Regions from separate parts of the Homo sapiens genome. Here region 2 is linked to region 1. The links come from fine-mapping of genetic effects on gene expression. A gene starts in region 1. The other region holds a variant in brackets. All regions are shown on one strand. Distances are from middle to middle. Region 1 holds the start of SREK1 (splicing regulatory glutamic acid and lysine rich protein 1). Region 2 overlaps ERBIN (erbb2 interacting protein).

The links.
Region 2: its variant is fine-mapped to the expression of SREK1 in monocytes (Fairfax 2014, PIP 0.95).

Annotation. Positions count from the first base shown.
Region 1 is chr5:66,141,179-66,149,519 of GRCh38, reverse strand. It overlaps SREK1 (splicing regulatory glutamic acid and lysine rich protein 1), which reads right to left and starts at 5,220. Exons shown (of 12, transcript NM_001077199.3): 1 at 4,983-5,220. The coding sequence starts at 5,143. RefSeq lists enhancers at 4,480-4,529, 4,590-4,649, 4,910-5,189 and a silencer at 5,370-5,439.
Region 2 is chr5:66,030,793-66,039,133 of GRCh38, reverse strand. It overlaps ERBIN (erbb2 interacting protein), which reads right to left. Exons shown (of 26, transcript NM_001253697.2): 15 at 652-751. Among named protein-coding and RNA genes, the nearest start is that of ERBIN, 110 kb to the right of the region's middle. The variant C/T (reference allele first, on the strand shown) is at 4,137.

The sequences.
Region 1 (8,341 bases):
TGTAATGCAACTACATCTGAAGACATGCCACCAACATTTCAGAAGCCTGGGAACTGGTTAAAAAAATGTTGGTCTGTTCTGAACAGCATCATCATGGAAGTATGGATATTAGGTACGGCTACTCCACTGATTTAAGCAATTTTCTTTTCTTTTCTTTTCCTTTTTTTTTTGAGACAGAGTTTCACACTGTCACCCGAGCTGGAGTGCAATGGCGGGATCCCGGCTCACTGCAACCTCCGCCTCCCGGGTTCATGCGATTCTCCTGCCGCCTCCCAAGTAGCTGGGATAACAGGTGCACACCACCACACCCAGCTAATTTTTTGTATTTTTAGTAGAAACAAGATTTCACTATGTTGGCCAGACAGGTCTCGAACTCCTGACCTCGTGATCCGCCTGCCTCGGCTTCCCAAAGCGCTGGGATTACAGGCGTGGGCCACTGCACCCGGCCAATTTTCTTAATCTTCATTTCCAATTACCTTCCTTAAAATAAAGACCAACTTACATTTACTTTATAAAAATGCAAATATTTGAAAATTTCAGGCAAGGTAACACTATTTTATTTTGACCATTATAAACTAAAATTATTAGAGTAGCAAGCCAACAAACAGATAGCTCATCAAACAAATGTGTACTTGCTTGTGCCCAAGAGTTCAAGACCAGCCTGGGCAACAGAAGAAGACCTTGGGGGAAAAAAAAACACATAAAAAGGGATGACATATTCCATTTGGTCTAAATGTATGCATCTATAGAAACTAGCAGGCCAGGCACAGTGGCTCACATCTGTCACCCCAGCACTTTAGGATGCCAAAGCAGGCGGACTGCTTAAGCCCAGGAGTTTGAGTCCAGCCTGCGCAACATGGTGAAATCCTGTCTCTACTTAACTAAATAAATAAATAAAATTTTAGAAATAAATTTTAAGAAGAAAATAGCAGTACCCAAATTTAGCAGATTTTAGTTTGACCTCATTCGTTGACTTAAAGTTTTGGTTTTTTAAAATACAAAATCTTATCAATTTTTCAAAAAAAATTAAAACTTTTCAGTGGGTAGTACACGCAGAAACCAAAGAACCAACTTTTTGGGCATCAATTAAATTTCTTGGCCCTAACTGGTTATTTTGTCTTTTATTAAACATAATGATAGCACTATACAATATTTTTAAAACCAATGAGGTAATAATATGTCCAGTATTTTATCAGTACATTAATACACATCCTTTAGAGGACAGAGGACCTACCAAAAAAGATATGCCAAAACATGAGCGAAGCATACAGTATCATGTACAAAAATATTAGTTGGTGCATTATTTATAACAGGGTTTCTTCACTGGGCTTCAGTGGCCCTATGGATTAGCACAATTCATCCTGTTTAAGACTACTTATAAGTTGCTAACATTTACCCACTAAATGCCAACAGGCCCTCTAATCATTGTTGACAATCAAAAAGACACACCTCCCAATTTCTAGCTAAAATCCACTAATTTGTAATACCAAAAAAAGCAATCAAAATATCCAACAATAGAATTTCAAAAACACACAATACACTCAGAAATTACTAATCTCTAAATATTACTATAAATAAGACAGCAATATGGAAAATGCTTATGACAAAGTGAAAAAAGTAAAATAACAGTGTGATTCCTTTGATTACGCTATATTACATATATTACATAATGATAGCACTATACAATTATTTTTAAAACCAATGAGGTAATATGTCCAATATTTATTAACGCATGTGAAAAGGACTACAGGGAAATGGAGAGAAGCTTTGATAGAGTGGTGGGATCACAAGTGCTGTTTCCTTTTCTCTATTTTCTATAAAGTGGCTTTAGTGGTTACATTTTTTTTAACTAAATAAACTTAAGTAGTTGACAGATTTTTCCATTCTTTCTTAGAACTTTAGAAGACCAGAGAAGTGACGGAAATCAACAAGCAAAAAAAATCAACACAGGAAAAATGTCTAGTGTTACAAATCAGGGTAGGCTTACCCTTCAGGTTTTAGTTACTTGAAGGGGGTCACGGGGAACTTACAGGGTGCAGATAATCCTGACTGTGTGCTGGTTATATAGGTATGTTTACTTTGTAAAGATTCATCAACCTGCGCTTACGACCTGTGCACTTCTCTGTAGGTACATTAAACCTCAATGAAAAATTTACTGAAAAAACAACAAGGATTTCTTACTTGTGTAAGAAAGTTTCACAAGCTGTGAGATTGATTTATTGTGCAAAAAGTTAATAGTAATTCTACATATTTATCAACTGGCAGCACAAAAAAAGGATGACAAACTACAAATAAGAATTCTTAATGCTTACAGTGAATGTTCACAAGAATTCCCTAGCCTTAAAAAATTCTTAACGTTTAAAAGATAAAGATGAAACTCAACCACTGCATCATGCCAAAAGAATTAAATTTAAAATCTGAATTTTCATATTAGCAACTTAAGTCATTTAAGTCATTTTTTTTTAAGAGATAGGGGTCTCAATATGTTACTCAGGTTGGAATCAAACTCCTGGGCTCAAGCTGTTCTCCCACCTCAGCCTCCTGAGTAGCTAGGACTATAGGTGCACACCACCACACCTGGCTCAATCATAAAATTTTAATGAGAAACTATTTTCACATTCTATTAATGTATTTCCAATATACCTGGAAATATGTATTTGAAAATAAATATATTTCCAATTTTAAAACAATTTAAATTTCTACTCAACTCTAAAGATGTCATAAAATAATTTATGTGACACTGCAAAACAATATATTTTCAATACAACTACTACTATTGCATTTTGTATCCATTTCAGTCCAAATTTGCAAACACGTCTTCTAATATAAGGACCAGGCAATGACAACTTCATTACGAAGCAGAAAACCTGTGAATAAAGCATGTCAGTATTGCTGCAAAACATGAATGAGGGATCTAGTATTGCACTTAGGGAAAAACTAGTTAAGGATTTTGCCTGGCCTATATATATTACACGTATGCAACAATTTTGCTTAATGTGTTACAGTTTGTGAAATACACTACCGTAATCTTCCATATGTTTAAGTGAAGAACTTTTTATTCTCTTTGACTTTTAAATTCCAAGTAATAACATCTGATTTCAAAAAAGTGGCCCATTACTGTCAGTTATGGCAATGTGTTGTCACCCAAACCCAGGTTTCAACCAAATAAATATTATGTTGATAATGAAGAACATTCTCCAATATATTTCTTCTACCTATGAGATACCTTATTACCACAGCCTTGAAAGCAAGATTTACAAAGGTTCATGTACAAAGTATTTTACTGATTGATTCCAATGCCTGCAGGATACGGCACTCCCCCAAACAATTCTCAATTATTCTCAACTATTAAGAAATGTTCTGAGAACTTAAATTGAGATGGCTGAAAGCATTTCCAAAAGTTAAGATAATTAAAGCAATAATGCCACGGTTAATCAATCAAAATGTACGTGCGTGCACTTATGCAGTATTCTCGTCAAAAATGTATTACCTGAATCTCGTCACGAATATAAAGATATATATATACACATATCTCTATATACCTCATCTATATATCTCATCTATATAAACTCAGATTATGAGTCATATTACAAGACAAAATGAACTACAAAACAAAATATCAATGTCACGACTTTAGAATCTTTAAAAGGGGACGGGACTGTCCTAGATTAAAGGAGATAACTATTAATACATGGATTACTTGGCATATTCAAGGGAGACAGTGTTATCTAATTACATACTAGATCAAAAGCAGACAAAAAAGCATTATTAAAATAACTGGGGAAATTTTAATAATCAACTGTAGCCAAAAACAGACAAAATGCTCGTAAAAGGAACATGGATGTTCAATGTATTACTCTTTCAACTTTTCTGTATGCATGAAATATTCCAAAACAAAAAGCAGAGAAGAAAAACTTAAAAAGTAAATTTTAAATATCCACACAACTTTTATATAGTTATGCAACAGCACTGTTATAACCTGAGATAGAAAACTAAAGAAAAATAGGTCTAAATGCATCACTAGGAAATAAATCAAAATTTTTTTAAAGAAATAAATCTTGGGTAACAATTACCCCTTCCCTCAAAGGATTTTGATATAATGAACAAAAAACGGAGGATCTTAATACTGTAAGATCTACCATTAAAAAAGAAAAAAAGTTTGTGTGCAAGAATGTGAACAACCTACAAACCCCTTGCGAGTTTTCTAAATAATATCGTACGAGGGAAATTTTACCATTCCAAAATACACTATCTGGGAAGTGGCCGCGAGCTGTGAATGCCAGCCAAGATCTGGACTTTAAATGTATACGGGAGGGATAACCCTGCACCGACTTACACTTTTTCTGAAAGCTTTGGGACAGTGTGACCTTTCAGGAGGAAAATTTAATCTGCTGTCAAAAGGGCTAACAGACATGATCTTTGGGAACATGGATGCGCTCGGTTAGATAAACCAAAATGCTAAGTTTGTGCGACCGTCCTGGGAAACAAACACAGCCCCAGTTCCATCTTGTCACCAGCAGCAGGCTTTCTCGTCAGCAAAACGGCCTGACACCAAGGCCTTAAAAACTGGACTGTGGCTCAGGCGCGGTCTCCGCGATTTTCAGAGTGGAAAAACGCTCTGAGACGTTTGCCATGAGGGCTGTTCCGGGCCCACCTGCGGCCATCTTAAGTTCGGGGGGAAATAAGAGGGTGGGGGCACGGAATTCGAAGACCCAGCAGCGAACACAAGTCCCGGAGGCACAGAAAGGGCAACCATTCTAAATCCTTGGTAAGGGCTCCGTGCAGTAGTTAACCCCCCAAATCCGACTAAGGAGAGCAGGACGGCGGAACCCGGGTGCCCTAATCAAATATGGGCACCAAGGTAAGCCGGCGCGATCACGTGACATGCACCGCGCGCCCGCGTCCGCGCTCTCCTCCACGCCTCGGCTCCCGAGGTCTCTATGGCGCCCGCGCCCCTCCCCCAGCCGAGCTCCAGCACTTACTCCGGGGGGTAGAGCCGCAGCTCCTCGATTTCTCCTAGGAAGGAAAAAAGCGTCCGCATCTGCTCGCTGGTCACCGCCGACGACAGATTCGTCACCTGAATCACCGACGTGGGGGTGAGGCCGAAGCCTAAGCCCAAACCGAAGCCGCCGCCGCTGTTCATCCCGATCCCGCTGCCGTTGCCTTCCCGCTCCCCAACGTCTACGACGCGTCAGCGACGGAGCCGGGAAAGCGGAGAACGCGCGGCCGCGAGCGCGCTCCCGCTGGCGAATTCACAGCGCCGGGCAGATCTAGCCGCCCATTTCACAACTCCCCTGCTCCCGGGGCTGCGCGCGCCAGCCGGAAGCGTCGCCCCGGCAACCCGGCGGTTCTCGCGCGGCTGCGGCCTCCAGCTCCCGGGTCCCTGGGGCTGTTGCTGCTCGTTTCACCGCCTGGATTTTTATCGGTGTTTTTGTTTTCCCCAAAAGTCGATGAGAGTCTTGTGCTCATGTCTACCCGGTTCCTTCCGGTCTCGGATTGGGAAACCAAGCGGCCTGGCCTACTGGTGCGGGACTGTAAAGAAGGAATGACTCTTGGACAACACGGAAGAACACTTGACCAAACTATAGGGCAGCCTTATCACATACAGGCAGCACCCCAACTCCAACTATTTTTAAAAGTTGGCAGGCGTCCTAATTGTGAAAAAAACAAAATTTTACAAAATGCGTAGGTTCAGGTTGAATTAAGGAAAGAGGCAGTAAGATGAAGGCTGTGCAGGGGTTGTTTATAACCTGTTTTTAATTCCCTCGTTCCACAGGTGTTGATGTTTATTGAGTGCTATGTCCCAGGCACTATTAGGCAAGGGCACGTAACAGACAGTTAAAGACAGTTCACATAGAACTTGCAACCTAATGAGAGACAACAGTAGTGAGTCCATGGCAGCTGCTCCCAAAATGCCCTCCGCAGATCCCTAAGGGTACCGAGACCTTTTCAGTAAGTTGGCAAGGTCAAAACGATTTTCGTAATAATATTAAGAGTTTCTTGACCTTTTTCACTTTGTTGCCATTTGCACTGGTAACGTAAAAGATTAAACTGCTGACACCTTAGCAGCAATCAAGGCAGTGGCGCCAGTCTTGTACTGGTAGTTGCATTTTGTATTCTTCACATCATACAACATTTAAGGTTTTAAAGTATGCTAGTTTCACTTTAAAAATGTCCTTCACAAATAACTAAAAATTGTATTTTTTTTTCAAATCCATCCTTGCTTACACGTCTTTTAAAGAATATGTGTGAAAAAATGGAAACTACTGCCGCTACATGCCCAAGTGAAATGGTTGTCTCCGGAAAAAGCACTAGTGTAATTCTTTGAATTTTCACCTAAAAATACAAATTTTATTACACTTGTATCCACCAGCTTGAGCTTGACAGCTTGCCAGTACTTAAAGACTTTTCTAGTAAAAGAAGCATTATATTAACAATTTATTTTTGACTATATAATGAAATATGTCAACATTTTTGTGATCTTTACAACTTAGTGGACACCTATTTTTCAAATGGCCAGTGGGTGCCATTACAAAGGCAAAAAGCCTCTGGTATGTGCAAGATAGATTGATGGATTTCAGTGCTTAATTGATGTGGTTTCAGATTCAGTCCACACTGCAATGAAGGCTAAGAAACTACCACATGTAAGTTTGGTACCGTATCAAAGAATAATATCTAGAACTATCTGGAAAGGCTATAAAGTAGTTTTCCCTTTTCCAACACCTTATCTTTATGAGATCAGATTTCCCTCATATATTTCAACCAAAACATATCACAACAGATCGAATACACAGAAAACTCATGATCACAAAGAAGGAAACGTCAGTCACTGTGGTCTACTTGAGGGTGGAGGGTGGAAGGAGGGAGAGGAGCAGAAAAAATTATTGAGCACTGGGCTTAATACCTGGATGATGAAATAATCTGTACAACAAACCCCCATGACATGAATTTATCTATGTAACAAACCTTCACATGTACCCCTGGACCTACAATAAAAGTTGGAAAAAAATAAAGAATACATAGATAGGAGAATTCAGCTGTCTTCTATTAAAGCAGACATTAAAAAGGTTTGAAAAATGTAAAACAATGCCACTCTTCTCACCAATTTTTTGGAAAAATATTTTATCATAAAAATGCATCATTTTGCCTTCAATCTCGGTTTCTAAGAAAAAAATGCGTCATTTCTATTAACATAATGGGCTTATAATTATTTTTAAATGAATCTCAAAATACCAAATTTCTCAGGTTTAATTTATAATGTGGATAGTAATAAAAGCATTTTACAGTCCTTAATAATCTTTAAGAATGTAAAGGGACTCAAGACCAAAATGTTTGAGAATTATTATTACCATAGGTATAAGCATGGAGGAATTCAGAGCACACAGGAGGGCCTCTTAAACTTAGTTCTAATGGAATACTTCCCAGAAGAAATATTGCTTAAGCTGAATATTGAACAAATAGGAATTACCCAGGCAAGGAGGGAAGGAGGAGCAGTGAAGGGCATTCCAGACTGAGCATGTAGAATATGCAAAGGCAGGGTTAAGGTAAAAGAGAGCTCGAGTGAGGTACAGAAGATTCAAAGTCTGTTATTGCTGGGCTGAAAATGACTAGAGATGCATGCAAAGGAATAAGCCTTTATGAAGGGTATTATTTGTCATGGTAGAGATTACTTTATCATAAGCTGGGAGCCACTGAAGACCTCGGAGCTGAAGAGTGACCCTGATCAGATTCATGTTCTAAAATGACTGGCTATGTGCGGTGGCATATGCCTGTAATCCCAGGATTTGGGGAGACTAGGGCAGGAGGATTGCTTGAGCCCAGAAGTTTGAGACCAGCCTGGGCAACATGGAGAGACCCCGTTTCTACCAAACAATAACAACAAAAAAGTAGCCAGGCATGGTGGTGCATGCTTGTAGTCCCAGCTACTGGGGAGGCTGAGACGGGAGGACTGCTTGAGCCTGGGGGTTCGAGGCTACAGTGAAAATGAGTTGTGATTGTGCCACTGCACTCCAGCCTGAGTGACAGAGTAAGACCCTGTCTCAAAAAAGAAAGGAAGGAAGGAAGGAAAGAAAGAAAGTGATGACTGTCACTGCAACCTGGAGATACATTGGAAAGGGTTCAGACTAGAGGCAAAGAAACTGGGTAGGTTATTGCAATAATCTGAATAAGCTATAATGAGGTCATGAACAAAGGTAAGAGGTGGTAGTAATGGAAAGCAAGGAACAGCCCCAAATTTGAGAATCACTGAACTCATTTGAAGATAAAAGGAATAAAAGCTGTCCACTCAGAAAAATATATATGGACATAAACTCACTTTTAGCTACAATTACTGATGCTTTCT
Region 2 (8,341 bases), 110 kb after region 1:
TTTATAAATAATTTCAAACCACAGAGATTTTCACTGGTGTCAGAAAGAAGATACATAAAAAATAGTTACTTTAAGTGTAACACAATAAACACACACACACACACACACGCAGAGAGTACAACATATACTAAAAACAATTTGCTCGTTAGTCTAAAAGGTCGTCATACCATAATCTATAAAAACATCTGTGCCCAGTAGTAAAAGGTATACTCCCCCTTGTCGGGCAAAATAAAGAAAAGAATTTAAGAGTAGTATTTATAGTCAGAGTTCAACAGATTATCCTGATCCAGTGTGTAGATCCAAGTGTAATATTAAGTTCACAGGTGAAGAAAATATTTCTTGGTTTAATAATTCTTATCACATAACACTTAACATGTATTCCTAGCATACAGCTAAATGTTTTTAAGTTATCAATTTTAACACTGCGGTTTAATTTAAAGGAATCATTTAAGGAAGCATATGCTACACTTATACTTCTAAATTCAACCCCTGAAATCGTGCCCTATTTTTCCATTATTTCGAAACAAACTGTTTTGGTCAATTCTCTGAAGTCCCATCAAACTGGTAAAAGTCTCTGAGACTTAAAGTTCACTTCACACCTTTTAAATTAGTATTTGTTTTTAACAAGAAAATCGATTATGAAATTCCTACCATCCTCAGTCCTTGGCTGTTGAGGGAACATGTAGTTGGTAAGCACCATTTTCTGGGTCTCTGAATCAGTTTCTTTTTGAAGAGGTATCAGGGGTTTGGACTAGAGAAGGAAAATAAATGCTTAATTTTCAATAACCCTAAAGCAAATATATATTCAGCAATTCCTCTGCATAAGTACACACCACTTTTTCTATAAAGTATCAATGTGCAGGTTACAAACAAATCTAACTATACACAATAACACTTTAGGCATTGATTTGATAACACTTTAGGCATTGATTTGAAACCATATTAAAATCCAACAAATGTAGTTTTTAGTATAAAGCAAGTAAATCAAGCTACTGAAATATCGTTTTAAAAGATTTCATATACTAAGTTTATCCATAGTCCGTTACTTATTAACACAGTGATATATTTAATACAGTTATAAAATAAGCCTTTCCATTGTATATTATTTTGCCCTCTCTAGTATTCCCCTTCACTAAGATGCTTTTGGAAAAAATGTGGAACAGTTAGTCTGGTTATCTAAATGTTTATTCTAGTTAGCAGCTGAAAAGAGAATGATGAAAACAATCAGCTGCTTCTTTTTCTTCCTCTTGTGTATCCTGTCTACAGTAATGACACCAGTAAGTCACTCGGTGGTGGAGTCCCCCAGGAAATTTGGACCTTCTTTTTTCTTATGATTTTTTCCCTAACTAGTCAACAAATGTTATCCATCTATTTTTTAATATAACTAATTCTTTTTGCTATTCACCTAAAATCCTACCAATAAAAGCCTTGGCTGACTCCAGACGGACAGAGAACTACCCAATTCTCCCCTCACATGTCACCCTATTACTTAATTCTTTGCACCTACTCCTATGAAAACCTTCCAGCTAGTTAATTCCATCCTGTAATCTTACTCCCATTTAAACATTCCTTTCTGTTCCTCAGCAAACAAAATCTGCCCTACATTTCAAATTCCTGAACAATTTCCTTAACTCTCAGATAATGGAAACGGTAGCTCTACTCCCTTCCCAAAGACAGTGCTTCTCTCAGGCCTCAAATACAGGTGTTTTATTCTCTCCTACCTCATCCACCCCAAGTCAGGAGGTGAGGGTAGCGCTTACAATGCTGTGACATCATTCCTCCCTTATCCTCAGATTTAAATTCCTTTTCCTTTGAGGCATATAACCCATACCTTCCATAGTCAATCTCCTGTCCTATTATCTACTGGCCTCTTGGTGGTATTCATCTATTCCTGGCTCTTTTACACCAAATTTTTCCAAAGTCACGAGTAATTCAACATATACAAAACACATATGACATTTCCATACTTTTGGCTTCTTAGCAGATGAACAATTTGTGAGAAGAAAAAAATAAGCCCCCTTAGATGAGCATATAAAAATTATATGGGAGGCTTTTAAAAACTCATCACCCTGAAAATCTTCTAAAACTGTTGTAATTGTTGCACAACTCTGTGACTATACTAAAAACCACTGAATTGTATCCTTTAAAAGGGGTTCACTGTATGGTACATGAATTACATGTCAACAAAGATGTAATAAGAAAACTAGTCACCTGTTATTTATGAGGCACAGACAGAAAAAGGAATGAGAACAGTATATCTGGCCTCTCAGTTCCCTGAACACCTAACTTCAGAGATCTTTAATCCGATTTCATTTCACATATTCTATTACTATGCCATAATTCCTAAAATATTCTTCTCTGAAATATAAAGATCACTCATTCAATGAATATTTCCTAAGAGCCTTTTATATTGCAAAGCACTATGACAGGTCCTGTGTACAGAGTGGTGAGCAAAGCATGTATCTTTACTGACTTTACTGTAGAGTTTATGAGAGGAAGAATACAGGTAACAAAATAGGCAACTGCTACTGTAATTCCAAGTGAAATTACAGGGTAGACAGGGTACAGTGTGCAAGAAGAACATACAGGAGGAGAAATTCACTTACCACTATCTTGAATGATTAGCAAAGCATTCCTGAAAGAAAGTCTAAGGTGAGGATAAGAAGGTAAGAAGCCAGGTAAGAAAGAGAAGGAAGAATGTTCCAAGAAAGCAGAACTGATTTAGAGAAATGAGAATGAATGTGTATGGGGTAGAGATGAAGCCACAAGATGAGCAGGCTCTTGAGGCATATGACATAAAGAAAAAAGAAACAATGAAAAGGTTTTAAGTAGGATAGTGCTGGGATCAGATTAAAGAATCACTCAAATCACAATGTGGTTCAGAATGGGTAATAAGGGATTGGAACTGGTAGCAACACTGGAGGCAGAGACCTATTAGGAAGCTACCTCAACAGTCTGTCAGCACTGTTCGAAAGCACTGTAAGGTAAGACAAAAATGAGTACCACAGATTATTTATAATTTTCTTTTTCTTTTCTTTTTAAGAGAATCTTGTTCTGTCACCCAGGCTGGAGGCTGGAGTGCAGTGGCATGATCATAGCTCATTGTAACCTAGAACTTCTGGGCTCAAGCAATCCTCCCGCCTCAGCCTCCCAAGGAGCTGGTACTACAGGTATGTGCCACTGTGCCTGGCTATTTCTTTTTCTAAGAGATGGGATCTTGTTATGTCACCCAGGCAGGTCTCAAACTCCCGGCCTCAAGCAAGCCTCCTGCCTTGACTTCTCAAAGTGCTAGGATTACAGGTGTAAGCCACCACGCCCAGTCTGATTACTTATAATTTTTTAGTAGCCACATATAATAAAATGGCAAAAAAGATGAAATTTTGATAATGCATTTAACTTTACATATTCAAAATATCATTTTAACATATAATCGAAAAAAATTAGGAATATGACCATATATATTATCTGTTCATACTAAGGCTACAAATACCAGTGTGTACCTTACACTCACACCAAATCTCAATTTGGACCAGTCACCTGACACTAGTGGCTATGGTACTGGACAGTGCAGGTCTAAGTGAAAGATGACAGTGAACAGTATTTAAGGGAAGTGGTAGTAGGGATAAAGCAAAATACACAAACACTAGGATGTTTAAGATTCAATAGGGCTTGTCTATCAACTGGACTGAAGTACAGGGAAAAACAGTAGTTAAGGGTTGCATTTCCAGGCCTCTGCCTCCATCAAGTATTATTTACCAAGCTAAAGAAGCTGAGGGGTGTGGGGGAAATATATTTGGGGCAGAACGTGGTATACTCAATTTTGGGCTTGCTGAATTTGAGACATGTAGGTGGCAATGTTAAGTAGGAATTGAGCTATATGAATGTGAAGCTCTGGCACAAGAACTGGGCTGAAGATATTGTTAAGAATAATGAGGATACAGATAGCAATTTCAGGAGAAAGTAGGGAGAAATTAAAGCAGAGCCTAGGGTAACCATGAGAAGCACAAACATGTAAGGCACAGGCAGAACAAATATGTCTGAAAAGGAGACTGAGGAGCAGTCAGGTAAAAGGACAACCAGCAGAGTATGGTAACACAGACATCATGCAGCCCTCCCACTCCACTGCACTCACAGTA[C/T]TTGCTGATCACCCTCAGCAAGACTACTATTCCTTTGACCTTTTGACATTCTTCCCACCATTTACTCCTGTCTTTGACTCCCCTTTTGTACCACACTGTATCTTATTTAAACCACTTTCTTGCCACAAACCAAGACCTCTTTGCTGCATTATTCTTTTCTTGCACCTGTCTTGGCAAAACTACAGCCCAAAATCCTTCCAGTTGTGTGCTTTCTCTATATTACATTGCTGAGCAAATTAGTATCACCACAAACTTGTGGAGTGATTAATTTGTACTCATATTTGTGTACTGATACTAATAATACTTCAACTAGGCTCTACATGTTACCTGAAAATCCTTCTATGTTTCCTAAACTGTGTTCTGAAAATATCTTCCTTAAAAAAAAAAAAAAGGATTCAAGAACAGCTATGAGGTTGTGCTTGGTGGCTCACGCCTGTAATCCCAGCACTTTGGGAGGCCGAGGTGGGTGGATCACATGAAGTCAGGAGTTCAATAACAGCCTGGCCAACATGGTGAAACTCCGTCTCTACTAAAAATACAAAAAGCTGGGTGTGGTGATAAGTGCCTTTAGTCCCAACTACTCAAGAGGCTGAGGCAGGAAAATTGCCTGGACCCAGGAGGCAGAGGTTGCAGAGAGCCAAGATGGAGCCACTGCACCCCAGCCTGGGCGACAGAGTGAGACTCTGTCTTAAAAAAAAAAACAGCTATGAGTATGGAAAATTCTACATTCTAAGAGTATCATAATGTACACTATTTCCTCTCCTCCCTTTCACAAACGTCATACCCAAGCTCTCTCCAACAGGTTAAGAATTCCTGTCATAGCTTTTCCATCAGTTTCCATCCATTATCCAACTGCTTCTCATATTCTTTTTTTTTTTTTTTGAGACAAAGTCTCGCTCTGTCACCCAGGCTACAGTGTGGAGTGCAGTGGAGTGATCTCGGCTCACTGCAACGTCCGCCTCCTGGGTTCAATCAATTCTCCTGTCTCAGCCTCCCGAGTAGCTGGGGCTACAGGCACACGCCACCACGCCCGGCTAATTTTTGTATTTTCAGTAGAGACGGGATTTCCCCATATTGGTCAGGCTGGTCTTGAATTCCTGACCTCAGGTGATCCACCCGCCTCGGCCTCCCAAAGTGTTGGGACTACAGGCATGAACCACCGCACCAGACCCTCATATTCTTAATCTTACTCACACAGCTTCTTTCCAACAACCTGTAAACATGCTCTGCAATATTAAAGGATCCCTGCGCTTTTCCTGCTGCTAGCTATCAATTTCTTTATGTTCCATTCCATTTCCTTCTCATCCAACCTTCTTAAAGAGTAATCAACATTATGTGATTCCATTTCATCATCTATTTATTCCTTAAACTCCTTCAATCTGGGTTTTGCCATATACCTCTATAATTACTTTAGCTAGCTGCCAAATATAATGGATATTTTTCAGATATAATCTGAACTGACTTCTCAACAGCATTTATCCTATTAACAACTTCTTCCTTCAGGCCAGTCTTAACTCTTCCTTCTTCACTCTTAACTTGAGTCCATCATCATCCAGTTCTCCTTCTACTTCTATGGCTACTCTCTTTAAGCCTCTTAGTCTACTGCCATTTAAATGTTGGGGTTCCTCAGGATTCATCATGCATCACTAACATTTTAAAAGTTATTTTATATAATTCCTTTTGAGAAACAACAAAAGCTATGACACCATTCCCTAGAAAAAGTTAATTACGATCATGGGCTGAAACAAATGTGTATTTCTTCTTGTGCCACAAATCTTTTAAAATAAAGTGAATATATTTTTACAAATAAGCACAAAGAATAAACCTATAATAGTACTGAAAAAAGAAAATGAAGCCTTCAGGAGCAATTTTGAGAAGCTTCTGAAGGTTAGAAATTTTTAAATAGAGAAACCAAGAGCACAGAAACCATACAGAAGAAAATGAAGTCAGGAGGTTCATGGTCACCAGCGTGTTCTATGCATGGCTAACTTGGATATACCAAAGATACTTCTAACTCAACATGTTTAACTAGAACTTAGCATCTTCCCATAAACATATTTCTTTCATTTGTGGTTACTTTTCTTGGTTGTGGCAGTATTATCCACCTAGTCACTGAAGCCAAATCTTTGACCCTCATCTTTGCTTTTACTCTCTTCTCACATACATGCATTGCTTCATGCTCTATTGATGCAATCTTTTAAACTATTCCTCAAAAATACCTGCTCTTCCCCCAGTTCTGTTTCATTACTTTAGTTCAAGGCAACGTGTTCTGTTGCCTAGAGTATGACAATGTCCTCCAATTCAGTCTCCCCTACCTTCATGCTTGGCACTAACCCCTGATGAATCCATCTTCCACCATGCAGCCAAAAAGGCCTTTCTAAAATATCAGTGTGATCATACTATTTGCCTGTTCAATGTTACACTGGTTTCCGTATTATCTATCATAAAAATCACTTCTTCCTTTTATACTGATGGCAGATATGAATAATTGATCATGACTAGAATGAACAAATGTCCATTTTGCCTGAGACAGACACAACTTATACATGTTGTTCTCATGTAATTATCAATGGTGCCCCTTTCACTCCCCCGAAAGTGTCCTATTAGGGACAATAAACTACACAGCCACCCAAATCACAGCAATTTTCCACTAGCTTGAATTTGATCATAAGTCAGAATCTGCAACACAATTTTTCAGGAAGCCACTCATAATTGATAAGAGTACAAGATTTTAAAAAATCTTATTTGCCATCCTTGAGATATAATACAGGTTCCTCTGCATGGCATAGAAGATCCTCCACCAACTGATCTCTATCTGCCTTAGTAGCCTCGTTTTCTACCTTTTCCGTCTCACTGTTACACTCTTGTCACAATGATCTGCTTGTAGAGTTATGGAATATACTATGCTGCTTTGCACCTAAATGCTTATGCTCATGATATTCTTCCAAACCAGAACACTGTTCTCTTTTTTTTTCTTTAAATCTTATGTCTAGTTGGTCATGGTGGTGCAGGCCTATAATCCCAGATACTCAGGAGGCTGGGGTGGGAAGATCACTTGAGACTGGAAGTTTGAGATCAGACTGGGCAACACAGGAAAACCCCACCTTAAGGGGTAAAAAATAGACAAAAATCCTATTCCTCTTTTTTATTTAAAAAAACTATCTTGGAGATAGAATCTTGCTCTGTTGCCCATGCTGGAGTATAGTGGCATGCTCATAGCTCACTATAACCTAGAACTCCTGGGCTCAAAGGATCCTCCAGCCTCAGCCTCCTGAGTAGCCTGGACTACAGGCATGTGCTACCCCACCTGGCTAATGTTTTAATTTATTTGCAGAGACGGAATCTTGCTATGTTTCCCAGGTTGGTCTCAAACTCGGGCCTCAAAAGATCCTCCCACCTCAGCTTCCCAAAGCTCTGGGATCAGAGGTGTGAACCACCATACCCAGCCCCGTTCCTCTTTTGAGAGATAATTCAGGCACTGCAGGCATTTCCTCCTCTGAGAAATTTGCCTTTACATCCCTTGGTTATCTTCCCCATCTTTGATCCTAAAGCTTAGTCCTATTAAGTCTTTTAACCACATTGTATTAAAGTAACTTTCTAAATATTGTTCCCACCTTAAATTGCCTGGCACAAAGCAGTTGTTCAATAAATGGTTCCTGAGAATCACAAAATGGATGAGGGAATAAATTAATAAATAATTGTTCTGCTCATGCCTTCAGCAGCTCATGAAAATTATATTACTGCATGTACTGTTCTACATAGCTGAGCAATTTATTTTCATAAACATTAAATAGTAGAACAATTTACTTTTATAATTCACAACCAAACCTCTGTATACCTTCTCCTCTACATGTCATTCTTTCATAGCAAAATTATTGCTTCATATGGTAAGGGTAAGGGAAATTTTCTAGGTATATCTGATTTGTTTTACTCAATATTCTGTCAAACTTTGAAGAACAAAGACTCCTACCATACAATTTTTGTTTTAAACCAAGTGGAGAGTGAGAATAGAATGAGAGAACACTATAAATATGAAGAAACCGTAGCAGATACTTGGTTAATTTCATTAAAATGAACCATCTGGTATAATTTGCTGGCATTAATTTATCCACAGAAGTGCTACTGCAGGCCAGGCATGGTGGTTAACACCTGTAGTCCCGGCACTGTGGGAGGCTGAAGCAGGGGGATGGCTTGAGTCCAGGAGT